Homo sapiens: one gene and its partners. The protein of the gene in region 1 purifies or fractionates together with the protein of each later gene. This does not show direct contact. Each region holds a gene or a part of one and is shown in the gene's direction. Other genes may lie near its edges. The genes, in order: DDX21, EFTUD2, YBX1, RSL1D1, PRPF8, NCBP2 and STAU1.

Region 1 (3,500 bases):
AATCACACTTAAAATTTAAACATTAGAGGGCAGCAGAGAAATCTAGTGCTTTGTGTTTAAGCTTAAAAGTGTTGAAGTTTAAAATTTCACCTTTGATTCTGATAATCTAGATGAATTAATTTCACTGAGGAACAGACCTGTATATTAATCTACTACAGATTGGGTTTTTAAGTAAATGAAAAGGCAAAACATACAGAAATTTGTTGGTTATTTGGTTTCCTGTAGAAAGCTAGGGAGTGGCATTTCCTTTCCTGCATTTTCCTGGTTGTCAGAAAATAAAGAAGTTAGATGCTCTTTAGAGAAAGGGGAGAGGCATGGGGAGATGGGCAGATCATGTTGCTTTCTGCTTTACTGGCTTATTTAGGTTTTTTTCTGTCAGTGGTGGCTGCAGACAGCTCTTATCAGGCTTGAGTAGTTGTTTCCAGGAGCAAGACATTAGAACATTAGTGTTGTGCTCACTGATCATTGTGTTGTGATTTTAGTTTCCAGCAAAGCTTTACTAAATAGATGTTTTTTTTCTTCTTACATAAGCATCTGGCTATTAAGTGCCACTGGACTCAGAGGGCAGCAGTTATTGGGGATGTCATCCGAGTATATAGTGGTCATCAAGGACGCACTATCATCTTTTGTGAAACCAAGAAAGAAGCCCAGGAGCTGTCCCAGAATTCAGCTATAAAGCAGGTTGGTCCTTCCCCTTATGCCAGCAAAACTGGGGATATCAACAAATCTTCACCTTGGGCATATCTGCTCTTGGTCTGATTTTCATTCATTCAGTGAATACCAGTTTAGTTTAGTTTAGAAATGAGAGGAAGCTACTTTTTTTTTTTTTTTTTTAATTGAGGCAGAGTCTCATTCTGTTACCCAGGCTGGAGTGCAGTGGTGTGATCTGGGCTCTCTGCCTCCTGAGTTCAAGTGATTCTCCCACCTCAGTCTCCCGAGTAGCTGGGATTACAAGTGAGCACCACCATTCCTGGTTAATTTTGTTTTTTCTTTATTTTTTTGAGAGGGGGTCTCGCTTCTTCGCCCAGGCTGGACTGCAATGGTGTGATCTTGGCTCACTGAAACCTCCGCTTCTTGGGTTCAAGCAGTTCTCCTGCCTCAGCCTCCCAAGTAGCTGCGATTACAGGCACGTGCCAGCATGCCCAGCTAATTTTTGTATTTTTAGTAGAGATGGGGTTTCACCGTGTTGGCCGGGTTGGTCTCGAACTCCTGACCTCAAGTGATCCACCTGCCTCGGCCACTCAGAATGCTGGGATTATAGGCATGAGCCACTGCGCCCAGCCTAATTTTTTTTTTTTTTTTTTTTTTTTTTTTGGAGACAGGGTCTCACTCCCTTTGCCCAGGCTGAAGTGAAGTGCATTGGCGTGGTCTCGGATCACTGTAGCCTCAACCTCCAGGTAGCATGCACCACCATACCTGGCTTTTTTTTTCTGGATGGTGTTTTATTATTGATATAATTCATGTGCCACATATTATCATTTTAAAGTGTACAGTTCAGTGGCTTTTAGCATAATCATGAGGTTGTGCCACAGTCACCACTATCTAATTGGGAAGACTTTTTTTATCTTCAACTTTTAGGTTCAGGGGTACATGTGAGGATGTACAGGTTTGTTACATAGCTAAATGTATGCCAAGGTGGTTTGCTGCACAGATCATCCCATAACCTAGGTATTAAGCCCAGCATTTATTAGCAGGATTAGCTATTCTCCTACCCACCCCCAACTAATTTTATTTTTTTAAATTTTTTTTCTATTTTTAGTAGAGACCGAGTCTTGCCATATTGCCCAGGCTGGTCTCAAACCCCAGCCTCAAGCAGTCTGCCTGTCTGGGCCTCCCAAAGTGCATGAGCTACTGCACCTGGCCTCACTTCTTTCTAATGATCAGAGGGTACATGTTAGAACTCACTTAATCTGTCATGGCATCTCATCACACAAATGAGGAAAGGGTGGCTCAGACCTAAGGTTACACTGATAAAATAGGTTTGATCACTCTTGTCTCATTCTCAACTTCAATAAGTAAAGTTGGATACAGTTGGAATTGATAACTGAGGATTTGGAAATAATATTGAGGCTTATCCATTCAAGACACATTTTCCCCTTTGTAATGTTTTCAACAGGCATGTCACCAAAATATGAATGTCTTTTACAGGCCTAACTGATGAAGAGAAAAAGTACTTGTATTGTTGGAACTGGTGTTCTTACATCCGTTTATTTATTGGCAGGATGCTCAGTCCTTGCATGGAGACATTCCACAGAAGCAAAGGGAAATCACCCTGAAAGGTTTTAGAAATGGTAGTTTTGGAGTTTTGGTGGCAACCAATGTTGCTGCACGTGGGTTAGACATCCCTGAGGTTGATTTGGTTATACAAAGCTCTCCACCAAAGGTATGTGCTTTATGCTTAGATTTTATTTTGTTTTGTTTTTTTTGGGTATTAAAACAAATTGGAAATTGTATTATTTACTTTCATGTCATTAGTATATAGCTATCTTTTGAGTGCTGGGATGCTAAGGGTGATTTTGAGAATGAACCTGTTATCAGACACCCCCCTCAGAACTGACACTTGAGTAGAAGTGCAGTCAGCAGACAGAGGTTCAAAAGGTGACTTGGGGATATAGTGTGATTTTTGAGCCAAACCTTGAAGATGGGTGGAAGGACTGAGATGGGATAGGGGTAAGTAAGGTAGATAAATGCATGAGCCTAGAGGACAGGGGAGAGAAAGGGCCTGTAATTAACCTCTGTGGTTAGAGATGCTTAGGTTTGTGAGTTATAGGAACCTCTCAAGGAGGACCCTGAATCATAGTTTACTTGATGTGGATAGTTCTTCACGTAAATAAAGGTTGTTCCAAAGGTATTCCAATCACTTCCAACATGAGGACCCCAAAATCTCACCCAAATTGGCAAATCCCCCATGGTTAAAGGCTGCTTACAACAATGGGGAAAAATAACTGAAGACTATGAATTCACCAATTCTTAAAAAGGAAGTCCCATGAGTGTGTGGTATAAACATTGTTTCACGAGCCTTTAGACTTTTTGATATGGTAGCCACTAGCTGTGTTGAGCACTTGAAATGTAGGTGGTCTGAATTGATCTGTGTACTGCAAGTGTAAAATACATACTGCCTAACTTTTTATTATGCGGTCTGGATTTTGAAGACTTACGAAAAAATACAAAATATTGCATTGGTACCCTGGTTTGTATAGATAGTATATTGAAATGATAAGACTTGGATATTCTGACAGGCGTGGTGGCTCATGTCTGTAATCCCAGCACCTTGGGCGGCTGAGGCAAACGAATCACTTAAGGTCAGGAGTTCGAGACCAGCCTGGCCAATATGGTGAAACTCTGTGAAACCCTGTCTATACTAAAAATACAAAAATTAGCCAGGCCTGGTGTCAGGTGCCTGTTGTCCCAGCTACTTGGGAGGCTGAGACAGCAAGATCACTTGAACCCGGTAGGCGGAGGTTGCAGTGAGCTGAGATCATGCCACTGCACTCCAGCCT
Region 2 (4,227 bases), on another chromosome or scaffold:
GCGTGAGCCACTGCACCCAGCTGGACTCTGGTAAATTCTTTACACAGGGTGTTTTATTTAATCCTCATAACCATTTATTCAGTGAGGATTATTCATTCCATTTTCCAGTTGAAGAATAGGAATCAGGTTGGAAGAGATGAAGTAACTTACCTCAAGTTACATAGTTGTTGGTGACAAAGTTGGGATTTGAATCTAAGTCTTCCAACTCCAGAGCCCTGATGCTCTAGTCTGTTATTTATTGCTTATAAACTATAGTTGGTGATGGTAATTAGTAACTACTATTTGTTTATTTATTTTGTTTATTTTTTTCGAGACGGAGTCTCACTCTGTCAGCCAGGCTGAAGTGCAGTGGTGCGATCTCAGCTCACTGCAACCTCTGCCTCCTGGATTCAAGTGATTCTCCTGCCTCAGCCTGCTGAGTAGCTGGGACTACAGGTGTGTGCCACCACACCTGGCTAATTTTTTGTATTTTTAGTAGAGACGGGGTTTCACTGTGTTAGCCAGGATGGTCTCTATCTCCTGACCTCATGATCCGCCCATCTTGGCCTGCCAAAGTGCTGGGATTACAGGCATGAGCCACTGTGCCCAGCCAGTTAACTACTATTTAAGACAAAATTAAATACTGATAAAGGTGCAAAAAGCTCTAGTAGGATAGAGGAATGAGAAATTGAGGAGCTAGGAAAGCTTGAAGGAGGTGGTGGCATTTGAACTGTTTCTTTGAATAGAATTTCAGTAATTGAAGTGGAGAAAACCCACAAAACACTACTTAATTACAAAGGGAAAATGAGTAACTTTACAATGGAGAGGCCTGGCAAACATCACCTTAATGAAGTGATCAAAGTTAACGTTACCACTAATGGGGCAAATTGAAATCATGTATCACCTGATACGAAATGCATTGAGAAGAACACAGCATCACTTCTATGATATTCCTGCCCAAAACGCATAACCTGAATATTATCATAAGGTAACATCAGACAACCTCAAATCAAGGGACATCCTTAAGGATTTCATGACAGTCCTTGGAAGGAAAGACTGAAGATTGTAGATCCAAAGACTGAAGATTGTAGATCCAAAGAGACTAGAGACATGACAACCAAATGCAAACATGATCCTGGATTGGATCCTTAGGTGTGTAAGGTATTATTGGAACAATCTGTGAAACTTGAATGGGATCTGTAAAGAAGGTGGTAGTAATGTGTGAATATCAATTTTCTGATTTTGATGGTTGTATTGTGGTTATGTAGGAGAATGTTCTTGTTTGTAGGAATTACACATGGTGAGGGAGAGGTTGGCAAACTTTTTCTATTAAGGACTGGATAATATTTTAGGCTTTGTGAGCCATATGGTTTCAGTCTCAACTATTCAACTCTGCTATTACAGTGTGAAGGCAACTGTAAATGATGCAAATGAATATGCATGGCTGTTTTCCAGTGAAACTTTTTTTTTTTTTTTTTTTTTGAGATGGAGTCTTGTTCTGTCTCCCAGGCTGGAGTGCAGTGGTGCCATCTCGCCTCACTGCAACCTCCACCCCCTGGGTTCAAGGGATTCTCCTATATCAGCCTCCTGAGTAGCTGGGATTACAGGTGTGAGCCACCGTACCCAGCTAATTTTTGTATTTTTAGTAGAGACAGCGTTTTGCCATGTTGGCCAGGCTGGTCTCGAACTCCTGACCTCAGGTCATCTGCCTGCCTTGGCCTCCCAAAGTGCTGGTATTACAGGCATGCGCCACCGCGCCCGGCCTCCCAATGAAACTTTTTTAATAGACACTGACATTTGAATTCCTTATAATTAATTTTCATGTATCATGAAATATTTTTCTTTTGACTTTTTCCCTGGCAATTTACAAATGTGAAAAAGCATTCTTAGCTTGAGGGCCATGTAAAAACAGCTGGAGGGGCCAGATTTGGCCACAGGCCAGAGTTTGCCCACCCTTACACTAAAGTATTAGGAGGTGATGAGCCATTGTGTCAACAGCTCACTTTCAAATAATTTAGGAAAAAGTAAGTTATTTGTACTGTTCTTGCCATTTTTTGATACTGAGTTGTTTTAAAATTAAATTTAGTATTAAAAAAGTGGAGGGAGGGGGACCTCCTCTTTTGGCTTTGGAGCGCCCCCCACGCCCCATCTCTGTACGGCGGAGCTTCTTCCTTCTGTCTTCTTTCTTCCTTCTTGCCTATTCAACTCTCTGCTCCTTAAAACCCAAAACAAGAAAAGTGGAGGGAAGACTACATAAATAGAGACAAGTAAGGCAGAGACTTGGGGAAAGTACTGGGCTTTGGGAGGAGCATTCAGTAGGTTGATGTCACTGGAGAGGAGGCATGTGAAAGGGGTATGGCCAACCATAAGACTAAGACTAGACAGGTGGAGCCACCACATGAAGGCCTTGATTACCTTGTCAGAATCTAACTCTTCTCTCCTTGAATTTTAGCATCATGGATACCGACTTATATGATGAGTTTGGGAATTATATTGGACCAGAGCTTGATTCTGATGAAGATGATGATGAATTGGGTAGAGAGACCAAAGATCTTGATGAGGTAAAACAAATATATTGCTCTTTTATCTCACTCTTATTTATTTTATTTAAGACAAGATCTCACTCTCTTGCCAGGTTGGAGTGCAGTGGCGCAATCTCAGCTCACTGCAACCTCCACCTCCTGGGCTTAAGTGATCCTCCCACCTTGGCCTCCCAAGTAGCTGGGACTACAGGTATGCACCACCATGCCCAGCTAATTTTTTTTTATTTTTCGTGGAGATGAAACATTGCCCAGGCTGGTCTTGAACTCCTGAGCTCGAGCAGTCCACCTGCCTTGGCCTCCCAAACTGCTAGGATTACAGGCATGAGCCACCATGCCCAGCCCCCTCTTTTTTCTTTTTTTTTTTTTTGAGACAGTCTCACCCTGTTGCCCAGGCAGGAGCGCAGTGGCACCATCTTGGCTCACTGCAGCCTCTGCCTCCCAGGTCCAAGCAATTCTCAATGCCTCAGCCTCCTGAGTAGCTGGGATTACAGGTGTGTGCCACCATGCCCGGCTAATGTTTTTTGTATTTTTAGTAGAGACAGGGTTTCACTATGTTGTCCAGGCTGGTCTTGAAGTCCTGACTTCAAGCAATCCACCTGCCTTGGCCTCCCAAAGAGCTGGGATTATAGGCATGAGCCACCATGCCTGCCCCCCCACCCCCCCCCCCACCTTTTTTTAAAAAACAATGAAATTTTGAATCCTCTGTGTTCCAGTGATACCCTGGGTACGTCTCTTGAGATTGTCCTTTTTATAACATGACTTAGTGGGATCTCATACTGCTCCAGCAAAGCTTCGCTACTAAGGTTCCAAAAGGGAATATGTAGTTTCATTGATGAGATGGTTTTGTAATCTGAGCTCTAGTTGATCATTAGTTCTTCCATTTCCCTGAAGTGTCTTTTAACAGTCATGAATAATTCCCACTTGGAAAAGATACTCAACTCTTCCAGCTACAGCTGCACTGGGAGCTCCCTCACAAGCTCAGATTTTCAGAGATGCATAAAAGCAATAGAAAGGGCCCGGGCGTGGTGGCTCATGCCTGTAATCCCAGCACCTTGGGAGGCCAAGGTGGTCAGATCACACGGTCAGGAGTTCAAGACTAACCTGACCAATACGGTGAAACCCCGTCTCTACTAAAAATACAAATATTAGCCAGGCTTGTTGGCGCGTGCCTGTAGTCCCAGCTGCTTGGAAGGCCGAGGCAGGAAAATCACTTGAACACGGGAGGCGGAGGTTGCAGTGAGCCAAGATTGTGCCACTGTACTCCAGCCTGGGCAACAAGAGTGAGACTCGGTCTCAAACAAAAAAAAAAAAAAATGACTGTTGAGTACTTAGGAAGCTAGCATGAGTTTTATAAAAATAATTTTCTCTTGATAGGATTACTAGGTTGAGCCACAGGTCAGGGGCATGCTGTGGACATGATGTATCTTGATTTGGGCAAGACATTTGAAGTTTTTTATTGATGTCTTATAAACCAGCATTTTTTTTTCTTTTTGAAAATAAGGTTTACAGTCAGGTGTGGTGGCTTACGCCTGTAATTCCAGCATTTTGGGAGGCTGAGGCGCTTGAGCCCAGGAGTTTGAGACCAGCCTGGCCAACATGGTGAAACCCCGTCTCTACTAAAATACAAAAATTAGCTGGGTGTGGTGGTACATGCCTGTAATCCCAGCTACTCAGGAGGCTGAGGCAGGAGAATTGCTTGAACCCG
Region 3 (4,227 bases), on another chromosome or scaffold:
GAAAAATGTTTGGAGATTTGCAACAACCTGAAAACTTCAGATGAACCACATAGCCAAGAAGTATCCCCCAAAATAAGGAAAAGTTGAGTATGTTGTAGATACTAGTCTGTTTTATTATTTACTACCATAAAATGTACACAAATGCATTAGAAAGTTAATACAGCCATTTGCAGTTGAGAAATGTAAACAAACATAAAGATTCAGGCAGCATTAAATCATAACTGCACGACATTCACTGTAGTAATATTGTACTATTATAATATGTAGCCACTGCCTATTGCTACTGCAGTGAGCCCCTTAAAATGCCATGTGACGCTAATCATCTTCACATGAACAGTTTATCTCTCCAGTAAATTGCATGTCAGTAAAAAGAACTTGTAGTACACAGGTATTGTGGTTTAGTGCAATACTGTAAGTCTTCAATAGCACCATGGGACCCATGCAAAGTGGCGCTAGTGATGCTGAGAAAAGTCATGGCATTGTAAGAAAAAGTTCAGTTGCTCGATATGTGCTATAGATGAGGTCTACAGCTGGAATTACCTTTCAGACAGATGTACACTTACCGTATCGATAAGTGCAGTACTGTACATGTATTTTCTCTTACAACTTTCTTAGCATTTTCTTTTCTGTAGCTTTATTGCAAGAATACAGTATATAATACATATAAGACAGAAAATGTGTTAAGGATTTATGTTACCAGTAAGGCTTTCCAGTCACGAGTAAGCCATTAAATTTTGGAAGAGTCAAAAGTTACAGGCAGATTTCAACTGTGCAGCAGGTTGGCACCTCAAACTTCTATCCACCCTCATAGATACTGAGTTATTCAAGGATACACTGTATTACCTTCCTGTCCCCCTAGTCCTGGGGCTGCAGTTGCTGAGTTTGCTACCCTCCAGTCTTAGCCCTTGGAAACATACAGTTTGTCCGAAGGCAGAATCATAGACAATATGTGGGAAACAGAAGTGAGTCTGTTGGGTGTGAAGGGTGTTTAATAGAGAAGAAATACAAAGATAAGTGGACATTATTATCTTACAGTCATCTACAAGGCTTGGAAATTGGTATCTGGTTGCTTTAGGTTATGGAGCATATAGATGGTAAATCCTGGAGTTTTTATAACCACAGGATTGTAAATTAGTGTATGCAGTTACGTGAATTAAGGTGTTAGACTAGTGTGGTCTGGTGATCTGCAACAAAGTAGTAGTATAAGAGCATTTAGTTACGGATAAATTTATGTATAATAAGTCTTATTTAAGGCAATACTGTGGATTGGCAAAAAAGTTTTCTAAAATTTAGCTTATTTTTTATGTAGATATACAGCTAGGATAAAGATAGTTATGTTTTAAAAGGAGTGGGAGGGGGGTCAAACATGGTGAACATGCTGGAGTAGAGTCCGGGAGTTTGGATGGATTGGGCCATGAAAAGCAAATGCTAGAATTCCTAGTTCCTGTGGCATGGAGAATTATCTGGCAAGCTGTAATTGTCTTTTGACTTACTAAAAAGTTTTCCAGGGAAGTTAAATTTTTTTGCCTTTGTTTTCCCATTTTGAGTTGCATTTTGTCTATTTTTAAGACCCTTACCAATCTGGATAGGCCATAGTATAGGAGTGGTAGCAATTAGATTTTAATTTAGAAATCTGGCTAGTATTAGTGAATAGTAAATGCCCAATAAATACTAAAAAGATTTGAGTACCTACCTTAGTAATGTAAGTTATTAAGTGTTTAGTGTAGTTTTTCTCATTTTGCAGGTAAAAAAGCCAATGAGGCAGCTTTCCTAGGTTACACAGCTGTTAATAGTTGAGTCAAGACTAAAAATCTAGCAGGGCGTGGTGGTGCATACCTGTAATCCCAGCTACTCATGGCTGAAGTGCAAGAACTTGAACCCCGAAGGCAGAGGTTGCAGTGAGCCAAGATCGCTACTGCACTCCAGCCTAGGCAACAAAGTGAGACTCCATCTCAAAAAAAAATTGAGTACTGTTATTTCTTTTTCTTTTCTTTTTTTTTTTTTAAGATCTGCAAAGGGGTTTAATAATGCAAATATCACATATATTTCCATTTTTAACACCATATTTAAGTTTTCCATTTTCTTAACAATAGAAAGTGATAAAAATGTTTTTCCCAATGTAATAATACAAATGGAAAATATTATAGACAGTCATACACTAACCCAATGAATAAGATTCACCAGAAGCAAAATCTATTTTGGGGGTCCTATATTGTTACATATATACAGGGCACCAGAACCACATTTAGACTAATACTTTTTATTTCTAGTTAAAACAATGCAGGGCACTCCTGTGACCTGCAAATCTAATTGTACATATGTATGTGTCAGACTGTGCAGGTGGCCAAGAAGAATAGAAAGAAAGACTTTATCCAGCTTTGGAGTTCAGGGCCTGATTGCCCCAGCTTTAGCCCATAGGAACTTGACAGCTTGTTCATACCTCTCATCTTTAGTCATAGTTTCTCTTTCTCCAACCCCTTTTCTCCCTAACTACCCTGTGCCATTTAGACTGGAAATTCTAACAGGTAGCTTTTTCTTTCTGAATTATCTTTACTACTGTATAATTTTTATTTTCAGAATATTCCTTATTTCTACATCTTGAAGACATTTCTTTCTAGTAGATGGGGGAGCTAGAGCTTACATTCACTGCCGGAAAAGGGTCAGTTCCAGTGTTAATTTCCCAGCAAACACCTGAGAGAAAAACTGAACAGAAAAGAATAGTGATGGCTGGCAGAGAGTGACACCTGCACCCAGAAAGCTGCACTGCAGCTGTCTAATATTTGAGGGTCTCTTTTGTTATAACTGCCAGTTTAAACTAGAGATTCTGGCTGGTTGCAAATTCAAAGCAGATCAATACATTTAAATCACTGGTTCAACAAATCACTCTTTTTAATGGTATAATGTTTTTATTGCAATTGAGGACGTTTTCAGTAAATACCTTGAGCTTGAGGCCCTGGCTAAGTATTCCTTTTGCAATACTGTTTTTACTGTCATGACACTGGTCAGTGAACTGTGTTAGTTTCACATATCTATCTATGTACCCACAAAACACCTCCCTGTCTTTGCAGGAGTGACATTACCCTGTGTGTAATGGCAGCCTTGTGCTTTCTCTGTGCAGAGACAGGGTCTTGCTCTGTTGCGCAGGATGGAGTACAGTGGCATGATTATAGCTCACTGCACCCTCATTTCCGGGACTTGAATGGAGGCCCGGCTAATTTTTTATTTTTTATAGATATAGGGTCTCGCCACGTAACTACTTTTAATTATTTTTATTGCCGGGTATGATGATATTGATATGTGAATACCTGTTGTAACTACATTAGAAGGCATAACAAACAGTCAGAGCCACCACAAAATGGATTGATAAAGAAATGATGTATTACCCAGATACCATGAGTAGCATTATCAGTAATGAAAAATTCTCCACAGAAGCTGCATTTTTAGTGAATTTAATGCGTATTAAAACAGTACAGAAATACATACATGACTCAGATAACAATAAACAAATTTACTTTCTATACCAAATCTTTACATAGTCTTCTAGCAACTAACACCCACCACTTCCATTAATGCAGATAGTGCTCCCTATCTTTGGAAAAAAATTTTATTTTTTTATTTTTTTTGAGATGGAATCTCACTCTGTTGCCCAGGCTGGAGTGCAGCAGCTCACTGTAACCTCCGCCTCCTAGCTTCAAGCAATTCTCCTGCCTCACCCCCCAGAGTAGCTGGGACTATAGGCACACACAGCCACGCCTGGCTAATTTTTTGTAATTTTAGTAGAGACGAGGTTTCACGATGTTGGCCAGGCTGATCTTGAACTCTTGGCCTCCCAAAGTGCTGGGATTGCAGGCGTGAGCCACTGCACCCGGACTGGAAAAACTTTAAATACCCTGCCAGGGGAAGTATTGCCCCTGTTGAAAATCACTATTCTAGACTTTGCCTGTATTTGCCTTTCTTACTCTACCAGTTTTTTATTGTATTTCCCCTTAGAGCCTTAGAGTTTGAAATTCAGTCATATTGGAGAGCAGAACTAATAAATGATGGCTGTAATCTGTTTTTGTGGTGCCTATGGAGTTATGGACAGATGGACATTAGGTACAGCCATCATTTCCCTAGGCAATCCTAATCATCTAGCTTGAAAGGTCAGTTTTCAGTCACTTGCCTTAAGTCGCTTTTACAGTTTACCTGTTCTGTTTTTTTAATTATCCTGTTCCCATCAATTAAAAA
Region 4 (4,227 bases), on another chromosome or scaffold:
AGCAGTTTGGGAGGCTGAGGCAGGTGGATTGCTTGAGCCCACAAATTCAAGACCAGCCCAGGCTATGTGGCGAAACCCTGTCTCTACGAAAAATACAAAAATTAGCTGGGCCTACACCCAACTGGTACGTGCCTGGAGTCTCAGCTATGCTGGAGGCTATCGTGAGCTATGATCACACCACTGCACTGCAGCCTTGGGTACTGAGCAAAACCCTGTCTCAAAAAAAGGAAAAGAAGAAAGAGTTATTATGTTTATGGAGCTAAGAGTTTTAAAGAAGGTAAAATTCTGAACCAGGCTTGTCCTGATTAAGCTAGGTTTTTATAGCGCATTACAGTACGTGTGCACATACAGCAACATATGTATAATAATTATATATGCAAGCATTTGGAAGTCTTTAAGTATATTTTAATTCTTGTTGTATCCCAAGTGTTAATTGATATTTGGGCCTGTGTGTTTTTGTGATTTACTTGCCATTGAAAGTGAGTTTTGTTTTTTGTTTTTGTGTTTTGAGACGGAGTTTGCCTCTTGTTACCCAGGCTGGAGTCCAGTGGTGCGATCTTGGCTCACTGCAACCTCCACCTTCCGGGTTGAAGCGATTATCCTGCCTCAGACTCTCAAGTAGCTGGGATTACAGGCACCTACCACCGTGCCTGGCTAATTTTTTATAATTTTAGTAGAAACAGGGTTTCACCATGTTGGCCAGGCTGGTCTTGAACTCCTGACCTCAGGTGATCCATCTGCCTTGGCCTCCCTAAAGTGTGGGATTACAGGCTTGAGCCACTACTACCGGCCATGAAATGTATTTTTAAGTGTTGTTCTTGGTGCATTATTTGCTTAACTAGCATGACTAAAAGTTATTTAAATAACACTAAGTTTATCGCGTATTCTGTGTGATACAAACATGCATAATGTGTGTAATAATGCTTTCCTCGGTTTCTTTTCACGTATTTTGTAGGACCTTGCCTCATAGTATTCGATCAGATTCAGAAGATATCTGTTTATTTACGAAGGATGAACCCAATTCAACTCCTGAAAAGACAGAACAGTTTTATAGAAAGCTTTTAAACAAGCATGGAATTAAAACCGTTTCTCAGGTAGGAAGCCTGGTTAATATTTTCAAGTTATTTAGAGGATTTAATTCAGGCGAAATGGTATCACAAATACATTGCTATATTTCCTAGTATTTTTCTTCTACTTTTCTCTTTTTAATTTAATTTGTGGTGGCGTGTACATCAGTAGCTTTTATATCTTGCAAATTATAAAAGAGGTGGCTCGTGTCATTCCTCTGTACTTCCACAGCATCTTGTTTTTCTCTGATTTGCTGTTTTGTAGTTGGTGTACTTGTCTTTATTACCCTCTGGATCTAAGGTATCTAAGTTTTTTTGTTTGTTTGGAGTCTCGCTCTGTCGCCCAGGCTGGAATTCAATGGCAGGACCTCGGCTCACTGCAACCTCCACCTCCCAGGTTCAAGCTATTCTCCCACCTCAGCCTACCGAATAGCTGGGATTACAGGCACCTGCCATCATGCCCGGCTAATTTTTATATTTTTATAGAGACGAGGTTTCACCATGTTGGCCAGGCTGGTCTTGAATTCCTGAGCTCAGGTGATCCACCCACCTCGGCCTCCCAAAGGGCTAGTATTACAGGCGTAAGCACATACAGCAACATATGTATAATAATATATATATGTTGCCCACCTAGATCTAAGTTGCTTTAGCTGGGGTCTTTTCTCATTTGTCTCAGTGTTCCCAGCATGTAGCGTAGTGCCTGGCACATTTTAGGCCCTCAAGTGTTCATTAAAGTATAGAGGCATGGCTCTAGGACATTTTTAAATCCAAATCCAAATTGTTGCCTAAGTATTTCTTCTCCTTGTTTAGATTCCTAACTTCTTGTTTTTATTCTTCTCTATACTTCCTAGATTATCTCCCTCCAAACTCTAAAGAAGGAATATAAATCCTATGAAGCCAAGCTCCGCCTTCTGAGCAGTTTTGATTTCTTCCTTACTGATGCCAGAATTAGGCGGCTCTTACCCTCACTCATTGGGAGACATTTCTATCAAAGAAAGAAGTAAGTTTCTTAGTAATGACTGGACTTTAGCAGCATGAAGCTTCTAGGTGTGTATGCATTGTGTTCTGAATGCCTGTGTGTTTATTTTGTAGAGTTCCAGTATCTGTAAACCTTCTGTCCAAGAATTTATCAAGAGAGATCAATGACTGTATAGGTGGAACAGTCTTAAACATTTCTAAAAGTGGTTCTTGCAGGTAGGTAAAAGGCATTCATGTGTGCCTCTTTTAATCTTGTATTTGACAATGATTTTATATATACTTATTCGTTTTGTTTTGTTTTTTGTTTTTGTTTTTTTTTTTTGAGATGGAGTCTTACTCTGTCTGCCAGGCTGGAGTGCAGTGGCACCATCTCGACTCACTGCAAGCTCCGCCTCCTGGGTTCACGCCATTCTCCTGCCTCAGCCTCCCGAGTAGCTGGGACTACAGGCGCCTGCCACCACGCCCGGCTAATTTCTTTTTGTATTTTTAGTAGAGACAGGGTTTCACCGAGTTAGCCAGGATGATCTCGATCTCCTGACCTCATGATCCGCCCGCCTTGGCCTCCCAAAGTGCTGGGATTACAGGCGTGAGCCACTGCACCTGGCCTTTTTAAAAAGATTTTGTTAATGGCTCCAGATCCTTTTTTAAAACTAAAATCTATTCCTCAGAAGTGATCAATTCTCGGGTCAGGTGCAGTGGCTTATGCCTGTAATCCCAGCACTTTGGGAGGCCTAGGCAGGAGGATCGCTTGAGCCCAGGAGTGCAAGACCAGCTTGGGCAACATAATGAGACCCTCTCCCCCAGCCAATTACAGAAAAATCAAGAACATTAGTCAGGTGTGGTGGTGCATCCCTGTGCTCCCAGCTACACAGGAGGCTGTGGCAGGAGGATCACTTGAGCCTAGAAGGTCAAGACTGCAGTGAGCCATGTTCTTGTCACTGTTCTCCAGTCTGAATGACAGAGCAAGACTGTCTTTAAATGAAAAAAAAAAAAAGTTCAGTTCTCTAGAACAATGTTGTCTGATAGCACTTTCTACTGTGATGGAAATGGCCTGCATCTGTGCTGTCTCATACAGTAGGCACTATTTGTATGTAGCTATTGAGCACTTGAAATGTGGCTACTGTGTTAGAAGCTGAATTTTTAGTTAATTTAAAATAGGCACATGTGGCTAGTGGCTGATGGTCACTGCATTGGACGGGGCAGCTCCAGATACTAAGAAAAGCAAGGAGAGTAAGATGAATGCTTGGAGAACATGACTAGTTCTAGGCTTTGAGCTTGTCCTTTATCGTGCCACTGCACTCAGTGGTGCAGTCACAGTTCACTGCAACCTCCAACTCCTTGGCTCAAGCAATCCTTCCACCTCAGCCTCCTGAGTAGCTGGGACTACAGACACACATCACCATACCTGGCTAATTTTTCAATGTTTTGTAGCGGCGGGGTCTCACTATTTTGCCCCATCTAGACTTGAACCCCTAGACAAAACCGGTCCTCCTGTCCTGGCCTCCAAAAGTGTTGAGATTATAGGCGTGACCCACCACACCTGGCCTCAGATTGTCCTTTAAAAGCACCATATTACCCCTTAACGTGAAGATCCACCTCATTCTTGGTTTAACTTCCTATTAAATGAATTCAGCACTTATCCTGTTCATCTGCCTATTTGGTGTGTGTGTTGTCATATTGGTTTAACCTTACCCTGGATACTGAGCTAGGCGGAGCCCCCACACCTAGTCTTACCTACTAGAACAGATGTTTTAGGGCAGTGATTGCTTCCAACCTCTGGCTGAGCAAAGGATGCGGTTCAGGCTATTTTATTAGGCTGAGAAGTGACTTAAGTTTGTATTATTGGCAGTGTATCAGCTTGGGGAGGTAGGGCAGGTTTTAAATGTATTGAAAATACATTTTATGAAGTACTGCACTTGCTGACTGCGGTGTGGAGATGGCTAGCTGCCAGTAAGGCAGAGCTGTAGGCCACTGCCCTTCCACCCAGAGATTCCCCAGGAGCCGTGCAGACCCAGTGGACACAGTCGGCAGAAAACAACACAGACTTCTTGCCTCTGCTCACCAGGGAGGCCTGACCCCAGGGGAGTGTCTCCAGGTAGAGCAGAGCAGGGTACTGGTGGGCAGGACAGGTGGTCTCTGGTGTTGTCTTTAGCCTGCTGCTGGGAATCCCTTCATCAGGTGT
Region 5 (4,227 bases), on another chromosome or scaffold:
AGAATCCGTTCTGGTGGACACACCAGCGGCATGATGGGAAGCTCTGGAACCTGAACAACTACCGTACAGACATGATCCAGGCCCTGGGCGGTGTGGAAGGCATTCTGGAACACACACTCTTTAAGGGCACTTACTTCCCTACCTGGGAGGGGCTTTTCTGGTGAGGATTCTCCTCTCTTAGAGGGACCTGTCACAACCCTTTGAGCTCATCTCTTGTATGCCTCTGTGATTTCCTGTGGTGTTTCCCAGACAGCCACCTCCAGGAGGTTAGCAGTGTGCTGGGAAATGGCAGGATATCACCTCACCTGCTTCTCTTGCTCCCCAGGGAGAAGGCCAGTGGCTTTGAGGAATCTATGAAGTGGAAGAAGCTAACTAATGCTCAGCGATCAGGACTGAACCAGATTCCCAATCGTAGATTCACCCTCTGGTGGTCCCCGACCATTAATCGAGCCAATGTGAGTGTGATTGACACTGGAGAGGGGAAGCTAAAGACAGTTGCTGCTTCTTGCCTTGGTTATGTCGTGAGCGCCCGAGTCTCTTGATCTCTAATGTCACATTGTCGTTTTCCTGGCAGGTATATGTAGGCTTTCAGGTGCAGCTAGACCTGACGGGTATCTTCATGCACGGCAAGATCCCCACGCTGAAGATCTCTCTCATCCAGATCTTCCGAGCTCACTTGTGGCAGAAGATCCATGAGAGCATTGTTATGGACTTATGTCAGGTGGGCTGGAATCGAGGGGAGAGGGTACTGTAGAGAGTCAGCTCAGGTGGAATTGAGGGGAGAGGGTACTGTACAGAGTCAGCTCAGGTGGAATCGAGGGGAGAGGGTACTGTACAGAGTCAGCTCAGGTGGAATCGTGGGGAGAGGGTACTGTAGAGAGTCAGCTCAGGTGGAATCGCAGGGAGAGGGTGCTGTACAGAGTCAGCTTAGGTGGAATCGCGGGGAGAGGGTGCTGTACAGAGTCAGCTCAGGTGGAATCGCGGGGAGAGCGTGCTGTACAGAGTCAGCTCAGCTTGCTCTTTTGCATATGGGAAATCCACCCTGGAAGCTCTGAGGATGAGACTCCTATTGCCTCATTATCTTATTGTACAAACTCTGATTTTAATTGGGCTTCCTTAACAAGTCTTAATCTCTCCATGTTTTCCTTCAGGTGTTTGACCAGGAACTTGATGCACTGGAAATTGAGACAGTACAAAAGGAGACAATCCATCCCCGAAAGTCATATAAGATGAACTCTTCCTGTGCAGATATCCTGCTCTTTGCCTCCTATAAGTGGAATGTCTCCCGGCCCTCATTGCTGGCTGACTCCAAGTAAGTGCCTCAGGACCCAGCCCTAGGCAGCCAGGACACTTTCGTTTTCCTGTTCTTCTAGCCCTGCAACTTTAGGAATTGTCCTGTCTGCCTTTGTTTCAAACTTGGAGCCAGTGCTACGCTTGGAGCCTGTCAACACCCTTAGTCAGATCTGCTGATTCTCTGGGGTCCTGCTGACCTGGAACAAGTTGGTGGAGTGGGTGGGATGGTTTTGGGATTTAAGTGGTTCTGGTTCTGGGGACATTGGTTATGCCCATGGTTTCTTAGAAGCTTGAACCCTCTTCATCCTCAGGGATGTGATGGACAGCACCACCACCCAGAAATACTGGATTGACATCCAGTTGCGCTGGGGGGACTATGATTCCCACGACATTGAGCGCTACGCCCGGGCCAAGTTCCTGGACTACACCACCGACAACATGAGTATCTACCCTTCGCCCACAGGTGTACTCATCGCCATTGACCTGGCCTATAACTTGCACAGGTGAGTTGAGGCTCAGGACCATGTATTTTCAGGCCAGGCGCAGTGGCTCACACCTGTAATCCCAGCACTTTGGGAGGCCGCGGTGGGCAGATTGTCTGAGCTCAGGAGTTTGAGACCAGTCTGGGCAACATGGTGAAACCCTGTCTCTACCAAAATACAAAAAATTAGCTGGGCGTGGTGGTCCACGCCTGTAGTCCCAGCTACTCAGAAGGTTGAGGTGGGAGAATTACTTGAACCCGGGAGGCGGAGCTTGCAGTGAACCGAGATTGCGCCACTGCACTCCAGCCTGGGCGACAGAGTGAGACTCCATCTCAAAGAAAAATAATAATAATAATAAATAAATAAATAATCCGTGTATTTTCCATTAGCTCCATACTTTAACGTAGTCATACTTTTTTACTTTACCTAAGTGAGAGGAAGTGGCCCATTCCTCCTATGGGTCACTGATTCTCTTCTCCAGCCTGTATGTACACATGAGCAGAGTGTTGTCAGCCTGGCGAACAGTCTTTCTTCCTCTGTAGAGTTGGCAGCTTGTCTTGTTTCTGGGGCTGTCATTCTCGTCTTAACTTTTCTTGACCCTTTTATCCTCACAGTGCCTATGGAAACTGGTTCCCAGGCAGCAAGCCTCTCATACAACAGGCCATGGCCAAGATCATGAAGGCAAACCCTGCCCTGTATGTGTTACGTGAACGGATCCGCAAGGGGCTACAGCTCTATTCATCTGAACCCACTGAGCCTTATTTGTCTTCTCAGAACTATGGTGAGCTCTTCTCCAACCAGATTATCTGGTTTGTGGATGACACCAACGTCTACAGAGTGACTATTCACAAGGTGAGTGTTAGCAGCAGTGTATAGGTGCGGGACTCTGTACATGGCTGTGGGAGAGTAATGGGCTAAGTGTGTACACATGCTGGGAAGAAGGCAGGATGGGGATGTGTTGTGTAGGCCATGCTAACGAATGCCGTCCTCCTCTAGACCTTTGAAGGGAACTTGACAACCAAGCCCATCAACGGAGCCATCTTCATCTTCAACCCACGCACAGGGCAGCTGTTCCTCAAGATAATCCACACGTCCGTGTGGGCGGGACAGAAGCGTTTGGGGCAGGTGAGCAGGTTTAAAGATGAAGAGGCTGTAGAACCATGTTGCCTCTTATTCTTGGGGTGGACTTGGTAATATTTACTGGTTTATTAGATGAAAGGCTGAGAACATCTCATTTGAACTTATCCCCAAAATACCTTGGGAAGTATTCTGTGGGAGGTCCAAGAGTGTATGAGGTGCTTCGTTCCCTTCCAGCTGGTCTGTTTCCTGAATTTCTAACCTTGAACAGGGCTATCAAAAATCATTTTTCCAAAGGCAACGCATACTCTTTTTTTTTTTTTTTTTTTTTAGCCGGAGTCTCGCTGTGTGGCCCAGGCTGGAGCACAGTGGCTCAATCTCGGTTCACTGCAAGCTCCGCCTCCCGGGTTCACGCCATTCTCCTGCCTTAGCCTCCCGAGTAGCTGGGACTACAGGCGCCCGCCACCACGCCTGGCTAATTTTTTTTGTATTTTTTAGTAGAGACAGGGTTTCAACGTGTTAGCCAGGATGGTCTCGATCTCCTGACTTTGTGATCTGCCTGCCTCTGCCTCTGCCTCCCAAAGTGCTCGGATTACAGGTGTGAGCCACTGCTCCTGGCCAGCAATGCATATTCTCTTTTTTTTTTTTTTTTTTTGAGACGGAGTCTTGCTCTGTTGCCCAGGCTGGAATGCAGTGGCCTGATTTCAGCTCACTGCAAGCTCCGCCTCCCAGGTTCACGCCATTCTCCTGCCTCAGCCTCCCGAGTAGCTGGGACTACAGGTGCCCGCCACCACGCCCGGCTAAATTTTTTGTATTTTTAGTAGAGACGGGGTTTCACCATGTTGGCCAGGATGGTCTCAATCTCCTGACCTCGTGATCCGCCCGCCTTGGCCTCTCAAAGTGCTGGGATTACAGGCTTGAGCCACCGTGCCCGGCCCAGCAACGCATATTCTTGAAACATCCACTTTGACCAAATCTCTTCTCTACCTCACAACTCTTGCTGAATTAACTCTTCTTTAGCTTCCTAGACGTTCAACATCTGGCTGGGCTGTATCTGTCCAGCCAGTTTCTCTTCCTTTACATTTATAGCATGTTTCATCTTACATTCAGTCCAGGATCTTAGTAGCCCAAACCCCTGATGCTCATCTCCAAATCTGTGTTTTGCTTGTATTTTTCTTTCTAGAATGAACTCCCCTCTTTGCTCTGTTAATCACAGTCCCTCCTTAAGACACGTTTTTTTGTGCAGCTTTTTTCTGATCCTAGTAGCCTTAATTTCTTTTGTTCCTGAACTCTGTAAAACAGTGTATAGTTTAGCACATACTCATGTGTCAGCTTGTGGTATTGTCTTGTTGAAAGGGGCTGTCAGCCTGGTCAT
Region 6 (3,039 bases), on another chromosome or scaffold:
GGACGCAGGCTTTAAGGAGGGCAGGCAATACGGCCGTGGGCGATCTGGGGGCCAGGTATGCAAGAAGGGTCTCTGGGCTCAGCCATTGCCTGGGATTCCAGTCACAATGACAGGTGTTTTGGCAATTTGTATTTACTCTTTTGTAAATAACTTTGTGTCTATAACCTTGGCTTGAAGTGGATCTGAAAACCACCCAACGGTTTGGGTGAATTTTTTTTTTAAACCGTGAAATGGTATGTTCTGTACGTTTCTAACAAGCAACCATTCTTGAACTTCTGCTAGGGCTAGGTATCTTCCACCTGCAGGAACATCTAAAATGAAAGCAAAACGCACTGAAGTGAGCTGAAGTGCATATGTCCTGCTTGAAATGTTCACATTGTGGCATCTGAACAGGTTTCACTGTTTGTCTAACATGTTTGTGGGAGGCATATTTGTTACACCATTCTTTTCCATACTGTAACTCTGGATTCTTTCCATTAAAGGTTCGGGATGAGTATCGGCAGGACTACGATGCTGGGAGAGGAGGCTATGGAAAACTGGCACAGAACCAGTGAGTGGTGAGAGCTCTGTCAGTGACAAACACTCCTTTGGCCTGTTGAATTTGCTGAAGAACATCACCTAAAGTCTGCACACGAGCCCATTTTTACCAAGATTTGATCAGTGTCTTTACTGAGCTGGAAGCCTCTGAAAGTTATTAAAGGACAGAATCCAAAAGAATGCCTTTAATTCTTGTCTGAGAATCTTGGCCATGTGTCAGATTATCAGAACAATTTTGTTACCAGGTCAGAAATTGTGTTCTTTGACAACAGATTGGATCTGTAATGTTGATTAGTCTTTAGCCATAACCACTACACTTTTAGAAAGACAGAAAAATGTAAGAATTTGTTTTTACCATAATGAGTCTTAAGTAGGTTCATGATCTACATTGGGGCCTGGGATTATTTTTTTAATTTTAAGTTTGCATGAGATAGCCTAATAAATGGAGGTGGGGCCAGGCATGGTGGCTCACACGTGTAATCCCAACACTTTGGGAGGCTGAGGAGGAAGGATAGCTTGAGGCCAGGAGTTTGAGACTAGACTGGGCAACATAGCAAGACCCCGTCTCTACAAAGCACAACGAAAAACAACAAATGGAGTTGTGCTATGTTGTATTGCTTTGCACAAAATTAGGAACAGGTGTTTGACAATTGAATTTGTTTTCTGTGAATTCTAACCTCTAAAGGCATGCTTAGAGGTCAAGGACCTTCCTGTGTAGTTGGTGCAAAAGCAATCTCCACAGGACAGCACTGCTTCCATGCTTCATACATCAGGAAATGAGGCCAGAACTTGAGTATTTACTAACACGTTTTTCAAAAGATGTCAGTGTTATACCTAAAGCTAAAAAAAAGCAAGGGTTTGTCATAGAGGGAACCTCTAAATAATTTCAGGGGTAGGGGAGATGTTGTCAATAGGAAATGGGATAAAATATCAAGAGACAATGAAAACACTGCCTTGACATGAGGACCAGCAAGTTTATTCTTTTCATTTTCAGTGATGTTGGGAATGGACTGGGTTTTAAAAGGGAGCTTGAAGAGGGAATGTTTGACAGTCACAGAAGGTTCCTGCAGCAGATGCCTCTTTTAGCCATTTCTCATTTTTTTCCTCAAATTTTACCTACTGAGGCTCAAGCCTTCACAGTGAGCTGATGGTCTCTACAGGGAGGGGAGTCTAGGGAATTTATTTGGTATTTGTAAGGCAAGAGGTGATTTCTCTCTAATATATCTGAGTTATTGCTCATTTAAAACTGTTAAGTCCAGTATAATTTTCCCTGATATGAAAAAATGTGCATTTTTTTCACTTAGCAACAAAGTACCTTCTAATTTCCAATAGTCCGTGAAAGTTGGGGCTGAAGTACCTAAGTGTGAATGTCTCTCCCGTTAAACTGAGTGTAGAAATCTGAATTTTTAAAAGAGCTGTAACTAGTTGTAAGTGCTTAGGAAGAAACTTTGCAAACATTTAATGAGGATACACTGTTCATTTTTAAAATTCCTTCACACTGTAATTTAATGTGTTTTATATTCTTTTGTAGTAAAACAACATAACTCAGATTTCTACAGGAGACAGTGGTTTTATTCGGATTGTCTTCTGTAATAGGTTTCAATAAAGCTGGATGAACTTATCGTTGTTGCTGCCTGTTTCCTGGCCTATAAAGAGGGTTGTGTTCTGGAATTCCTGTACTCTGGATACACATGAATGAGTTCCAGGGGGATTCTATGAATAGTGTGGACAATTCGCGTGTCCATTTTGATTGACTGACAGTTGGAAATAACTATTGCTGCGTGTGAAGAGAGCGCACAGATTTTCTTGTGAAAGTGATCAAATAGGCACCAAGCAACCTCTACTGATGGAAGAATAGGTTAGTTTTCCAAAAAACATGCTCTGGATGATTGCAAGGGAAGGGAAATTGTGGGTGGATTAAGAACATCTTATGTTTCCTGGGCTAGAGAACACTAAATGTGAGTCTCTTTACTGCACCATTCTTTCCTATTTCTCATGGATAGCATCTGACCTGTTTCTCACTTTAATCGGAGAAAAGTGAAAATTCAAACGTACAGATGAAGGCATCACTATTAATACATGTTAGTGAAGTGTGAGAATTAAACATTCAGTTTCTCAGTCAAGCTAAGATGAAGATATAGAACATTTCCGTTGTAGAAAATTCGAGTGATGGTGCTGCTGCTCTGAGGGTGAGCTGGTTAGGGCCTGCACTGCTCACTGTTCTGAAATGACCTCTGTCGTGACTGGAATGTCACAAGAAAAAAATTACTCCTCGCCAAACAGTACATGTTACTCAAGACGAGAGAACACAAGTTTATAAAGGCATTTAGTTTATTTTTCAAAAAAATACTTTGCTAGAAGGGTTGAGTACTGTAATTTTACATGATCATAATCTCTAAATAAATTCTTTTTCTGACCAACAGGTACCAGTTAAGTGAACAGCTCGTCTAGGTCTGCTTTTGTAACACCCAAATACAATTAGCACTTCTCTGCTGGTATTCC
Region 7 (4,227 bases), on another chromosome or scaffold:
GTAATCACTTTAATATGCAGCTAACTTTCTGTTCATGTTTAATTTTAGATTCTTTCCCCATCTTTGTTGACTTAGTTTTATTTCTTTAATATGTAAAACAGTAAATGCTTCCAGAAGTCAAAACTATCATTCCCGTCTCATCCCGTCTGTCTACCCTAATCCCTCACACCTGTTGTAGGTAACTAATTTCATTGCTTGCTTTTTGAGACGGAGTCCCACTCTGTCACCCAGGCTGGAGTGGCGCAATCTCAGCTCACTGCAAGCTCCGCCTCCCAGGTTCACGCCATTCTCCTGCTTCAGCCTCCCGAGTAGCTGGGACTACAGGCGCCTGCCACCACGCCCGGCTAATTTTTTTTGTATTTTTAGTAGAGACGGGGTTTCACCATGTTAGCCAGGATGGTCTCGATCTCCTGACCTCGTGATCCACCTGCCTCGGCCTCCCAAAGTGCTGGGATTACAGGCGTGAGCCACCGCGCCTGGCCCATTGCTTGCTTTTTTTTTTTTTTTTTTTTCCTTTGAGACAGGGTCTTACTCTATCGCTTAGGCTGGAGTGCAGTTTTGTGATCTTGGATCACTGCAACCTCCGTCTCTCAGGTTCAAGGGGTTTTTGTGCCTCAGCCTCCCAAGTAGCTGGGATTACAGGTGTGCACCACCACCCCTAGCTAATTTTTGTATTTTTAGTAGAGATGGGGGTTTCACCATGTTGGCCAGGCTGGTCTTGAACTCCTGACCTCAAGTGATCCACCCGCTTTGGTCTCCCAAATTGCTGGGATTACAGGTGTGAGCCACCATGTCCAGCCCATTGATTTTTTTTATCCTTCGTTTTTTTTTTTTTTTTTTTTTTTTTTGCAAAAATGAGCTTATAAATGTGTGTCTGTTTATATATGTGTAGATATTTGTATAAAATCCTATTTTTCTTAAACTAAAGCTACCATACCATATACTCTTTTGTGGGTTTTTTTTTTTTTTTTTTTTACTTAATGTGTGCGGGGAATCCCTCTTTATCAGTGCTTAAGAGATTTGTCTCGTTCTCTTTTGTGGCCACATAGCAACCAGTATTTAGTAGGCCTAGTCCTGGCTGGAGGCTCAGAGCAGATACTAAACTTGAGCATTTGTACTGCATTTATTTCTGGACTTTGCTGGGCTAGCTTCCTTTTTGCCAGTTGCAGTGGACCACACTAAACTCAGGACAGCCTGTGAGCCAGGGGCATGGGAGTAAAAAGGTCTCCCTATTTCATGCCTGACTGTTTGGGACTCACCAGACTCAAGAGCATAAACCAGTTTGAGAAGTAAGAAGAAAGGCGAGAAAGCATTTGAAATGATCCCCGCTTCCTTTCATTTAGTAGGTCTTGTCCTTGGTTCCCCTTCCCTGTGTCTGTGTGAAGTGTGCCAGCCAGTGTGCCTTGGAGCTTTTAATAAGTGTCTGTCCGCTTTCACTCAGTCTTTCCCTCTGAAACAGGTGGCCCGGGAGAGTGGCCCACCCCACATGAAGAACTTTGTGACCAAGGTTTCGGTTGGGGAGTTTGTGGGGGAAGGTGAAGGGAAAAGCAAGAAGATTTCAAAGAAAAATGCCGCCATAGCTGTTCTTGAGGAGCTGAAGAAGTTACCGCCCCTGCCTGCAGTTGAACGAGTAAAGCCTAGAATCAAAAAGAAAACAAAACCCATAGTCAAGGTGAGAACTTTTCTGAACACAGAAGGTGTTTTCATTACTTATAGATGGGTGGGGGGTTTAGAAGGCTGGTCGCTGTCCCCAAGGTGAAAGGGGATGAGACCAACGTGCCACACCCCAGGCCTGCCAGACCCCTTAGAGGTGCTGCAAGAGCCACCTGTTAGGTAAGATAAGGACATTGTGTCAGTTCAGTAGAGGTACCCGCAGACGGGCACACACATCTGTGCAGGAGGGCGCTCATCACAGCCCTGGCGATCACAGTGGGGTATTGGGCAGGAACGCCATGCCGGTCTGTGGGGCGCGTGGTGAAATAACAGTGCCTGTGTCTCAGTGACCATGTTGCTGTTCTGAAGGTGGAGGAGATTTGTGCCAGGCAGGAGGCCCATAGTGGGAGGGTAGGAGTGAGACATTTTGCTGTGTGCCTTTTCTTTTGGATTTTTGAGCCACACTAATGGATCTATCAAAGCATTATATTGACCCCTTCCCCAACCCCAGAAAGGGGACATAATTCCATGGGGAACTTTGTGATTTTCAGTATATGTAGTTTCATGCTGTATCAAGATCCAAATTTTTCTTACATAAAAGCATACTATGTATACCTTTTGTTTCCCTTTTTTGCTTAATATAGCCTGGAAGTCACTTCTGATCAGCAGAGTGAGGGTTCCTTGGCACAAAAGGTGGCCTCAAGGAAGTAACTGGGATTCTGAGGTTCTTCTTGCCATGTGGCATCAGCTTGAGCTTTTTTAAAAAAGTGGTTCCTGGATTTTGAGTTCTTTTCAAGAAAATTGGGAACCCATCATAGCTCAGACTTTTGGGGAGTTGTAGGAATAGTGTTTTATGTTTTTTCTGCCCATTTACTGTCATATGTTGAAATATGTTAAAAAACAGCCGTCGCAGTCATAGTGACGCTTCGTTATAGTGAAATGTTGATGTTGGTTTGCTAAGACCTTAAAATCACCTAGAACAATCATAAAAAAAATAAAGCATCTTTTCATTGTTAAAATGTTAAATTAAAAAAAATCGAATTCTGAGCCATTAGGTCAACCCAAAATCTCTTATCTCCTCTCATATCCTGATCTCTGAGTTGACCAAGTTCATGCGGTGAATAACATTACAGAGTTTCTGCCTTGTTTGTTCCTCAGCCACAGACAAGCCCAGAATATGGCCAGGGGATCAATCCGATTAGCCGACTGGCCCAGATCCAGCAGGCAAAAAAGGAGAAGGAGCCAGAGTACACGCTCCTCACAGAGCGAGGCCTCCCGCGCCGCAGGGAGTTTGTGATGCAGGTGGGTCCGCATGGATGATGGGCGCCCCTTCCTCTGACCACGTCCAGCCTTGGGGGCTGATGGCGGTTCAAGGTCTGGACACCTTCCTGAGGAGGCTGGATCCTGTGGGCCATGTTCTGCCAGCGACTGTGATCCTTATTTATTTATTTATTTATTTATTTATTTATTTATTTTTGAGATGGAGTCTCACTCTGTCGCCCAGGCTGGAGTGCAGTGGTGCTGTCTCAGCTCACTACAACCTCCGACTCCCTGATTGAAGCGATTCTCCTGCCTCAGCCTCCCGAGTAGCTGGGATTACAGGCACGTGCCACCATGCCCAGCTAATTTTTTGTATTTTTAGCAGAGACGGAGTTTCGCCATGTTGGCCAGGATGGTTTTGATCTCCTGACCTTGTGATCCTCCCACCTCAGCCTCCCAAAGTGCTGGGATTACAGGCGTGAGCCACCTCGCCCAGCCAACTGTGATCCTTATTAAGACCTTGTGGCTTGCAATAATTTGATAGCTTAAACATACCACAGAAATCTGTAAAGGCTACATATCAAAGATTAAGTTGTTTATCTTAATGCTTAAAAAAATGAATGTAATGTCTGCACACCAGCACTACTGCTGGGTGCACTGGTGGGAATGTGGGTGTGTTGCACTGAAATTTGGAAGAAAGAGTCCTGGGGTGGTGGGTGCTGGGAGAAGTTTTTCTTCATTACATCTCCTTGAAGGTTTATGACATTGCTCTTTACCAAAGGTAAATTTTGTAAGTAGTATCAAGAGATCTGTTCCTCTTCCTCCTAATTCTTATGGAGTCTGGAATCTAGGGTTACCTCTTCCTTAGATTGGGTGACACTTCAGATTAGTATGGAACATTTCTTTGTACTTAGCTGATTAAGTTCAAAGCTAAGTGGTCATTTCACATAGGCAGCTTAACTTAATTGTGATTTGAATTTAAGTGCTTTCTGATGTAAGACAGAATCCTTATCTCTTGTATAGCAATTTATAACTTAGAAAGTTGACCTCGTATATTTTACCTATGCAGTCAGAAGGTAGGAAAAGAATGATCCTTTCATTCCACAAAAGGAAGTTGCAGTTTGCTGAGAGGATCAGTAGTTTGCCCAAGATGAAATGGCTGGTAGATGGCCAGGTTGGAATTTAGTCCCAGGCCAGGGAATGGTTTCTTTGACTCTCTGAGTCTTGTGACCTGGGCTTTTGGTTTTAGCAGCCAGGTGCCTGTTATTACAATCAACTTGGAAGGGGGTTGTAAGTAGTGATGTGCTGGAACAT

What was found.
Region 2: the proteins of DDX21 (region 1) and EFTUD2 purify together in Homo sapiens (affinity purification with mass spectrometry; 3 studies listed by BioGRID and IntAct, with this or other methods). This does not show direct contact.
Region 3: the proteins of DDX21 (region 1) and YBX1 purify together in Homo sapiens (co-immunoprecipitation; 4 studies listed by BioGRID and IntAct, with this or other methods). This does not show direct contact.
Region 4: the proteins of DDX21 (region 1) and RSL1D1 purify together in Homo sapiens (affinity purification with mass spectrometry; 3 studies listed by BioGRID and IntAct, with this or other methods). This does not show direct contact.
Region 5: the proteins of DDX21 (region 1) and PRPF8 purify together in Homo sapiens (affinity purification with mass spectrometry; 2 studies listed by BioGRID and IntAct, with this or other methods). This does not show direct contact.
Region 6: the proteins of DDX21 (region 1) and NCBP2 purify together in Homo sapiens (co-immunoprecipitation; 2 studies listed by BioGRID and IntAct, with this or other methods). This does not show direct contact.
Region 7: the proteins of DDX21 (region 1) and STAU1 purify together in Homo sapiens (affinity purification with mass spectrometry; 4 studies listed by BioGRID and IntAct, with this or other methods). This does not show direct contact.

The regions. Positions count from the first base shown.
Region 1 is NC_000010.11:68,969,670-68,973,169, forward strand, and holds part of DDX21 (nucleolar RNA helicase 2), read left to right. Parts: intron 1-531; coding exon 532-681; intron 682-2,221; coding exon 2,222-2,383; intron 2,384-3,500.
Region 2 is NC_000017.11:44,892,730-44,896,956, reverse strand, and holds part of EFTUD2 (116 kDa U5 small nuclear ribonucleoprotein component), read left to right. Parts: intron 1-2,431; 5' UTR 2,432-2,435; coding exon 2,436-2,540; intron 2,541-4,227. UniProt on the Homo sapiens protein: Required for pre-mRNA splicing as component of the spliceosome, including pre-catalytic, catalytic and post-catalytic spliceosomal complexes. Component of the U5 snRNP and the U4/U6-U5 tri-snRNP complex, a building block of the spliceosome.
Region 3 is NC_000001.11:42,688,257-42,692,483, forward strand, and holds part of YBX1 (Y-box-binding protein 1), read left to right. Parts: intron 1-4,227. UniProt on the Homo sapiens protein: DNA- and RNA-binding protein involved in various processes, such as translational repression, RNA stabilization, mRNA splicing, DNA repair and transcription regulation.
Region 4 is NC_000016.10:11,844,535-11,848,761, reverse strand, and holds part of RSL1D1 (ribosomal L1 domain-containing protein 1), read left to right. Parts: intron 1-955; coding exon 956-1,094; intron 1,095-1,918; coding exon 1,919-2,067; intron 2,068-2,159; coding exon 2,160-2,261; intron 2,262-4,227. UniProt on the Homo sapiens protein: Regulates cellular senescence through inhibition of PTEN translation. Acts as a pro-apoptotic regulator in response to DNA damage.
Region 5 is NC_000017.11:1,656,926-1,661,152, reverse strand, and holds part of PRPF8 (pre-mRNA-processing-splicing factor 8), read left to right. Parts: coding exon 1-160; intron 161-325; coding exon 326-455; intron 456-574; coding exon 575-721; intron 722-1,151; coding exon 1,152-1,312; intron 1,313-1,604; coding exon 1,605-1,796; intron 1,797-2,389; coding exon 2,390-2,627; intron 2,628-2,771; coding exon 2,772-2,900; intron 2,901-4,227. UniProt on the Homo sapiens protein: Plays a role in pre-mRNA splicing as core component of precatalytic, catalytic and postcatalytic spliceosomal complexes, both of the predominant U2-type spliceosome and the minor U12-type spliceosome.
Region 6 is NC_000003.12:196,934,526-196,937,564, reverse strand, and holds the end of NCBP2 (nuclear cap-binding protein subunit 2), read left to right. Parts: coding exon 1-55; intron 56-482; coding exon 483-554; 3' UTR 555-2,159; downstream 2,160-3,039. UniProt on the Homo sapiens protein: Component of the cap-binding complex (CBC), which binds co-transcriptionally to the 5' cap of pre-mRNAs and is involved in various processes such as pre-mRNA splicing, translation regulation, nonsense-mediated mRNA decay, RNA-mediated gene silencing (RNAi) by microRNAs (miRNAs) and mRNA export.
Region 7 is NC_000020.11:49,121,820-49,126,046, reverse strand, and holds part of STAU1 (double-stranded RNA-binding protein Staufen homolog 1), read left to right. Parts: intron 1-1,441; coding exon of another isoform or gene 1,442-1,459; coding exon 1,460-1,672; intron 1,673-2,811; coding exon 2,812-2,955; intron 2,956-4,227. UniProt on the Homo sapiens protein: Binds double-stranded RNA (regardless of the sequence) and tubulin.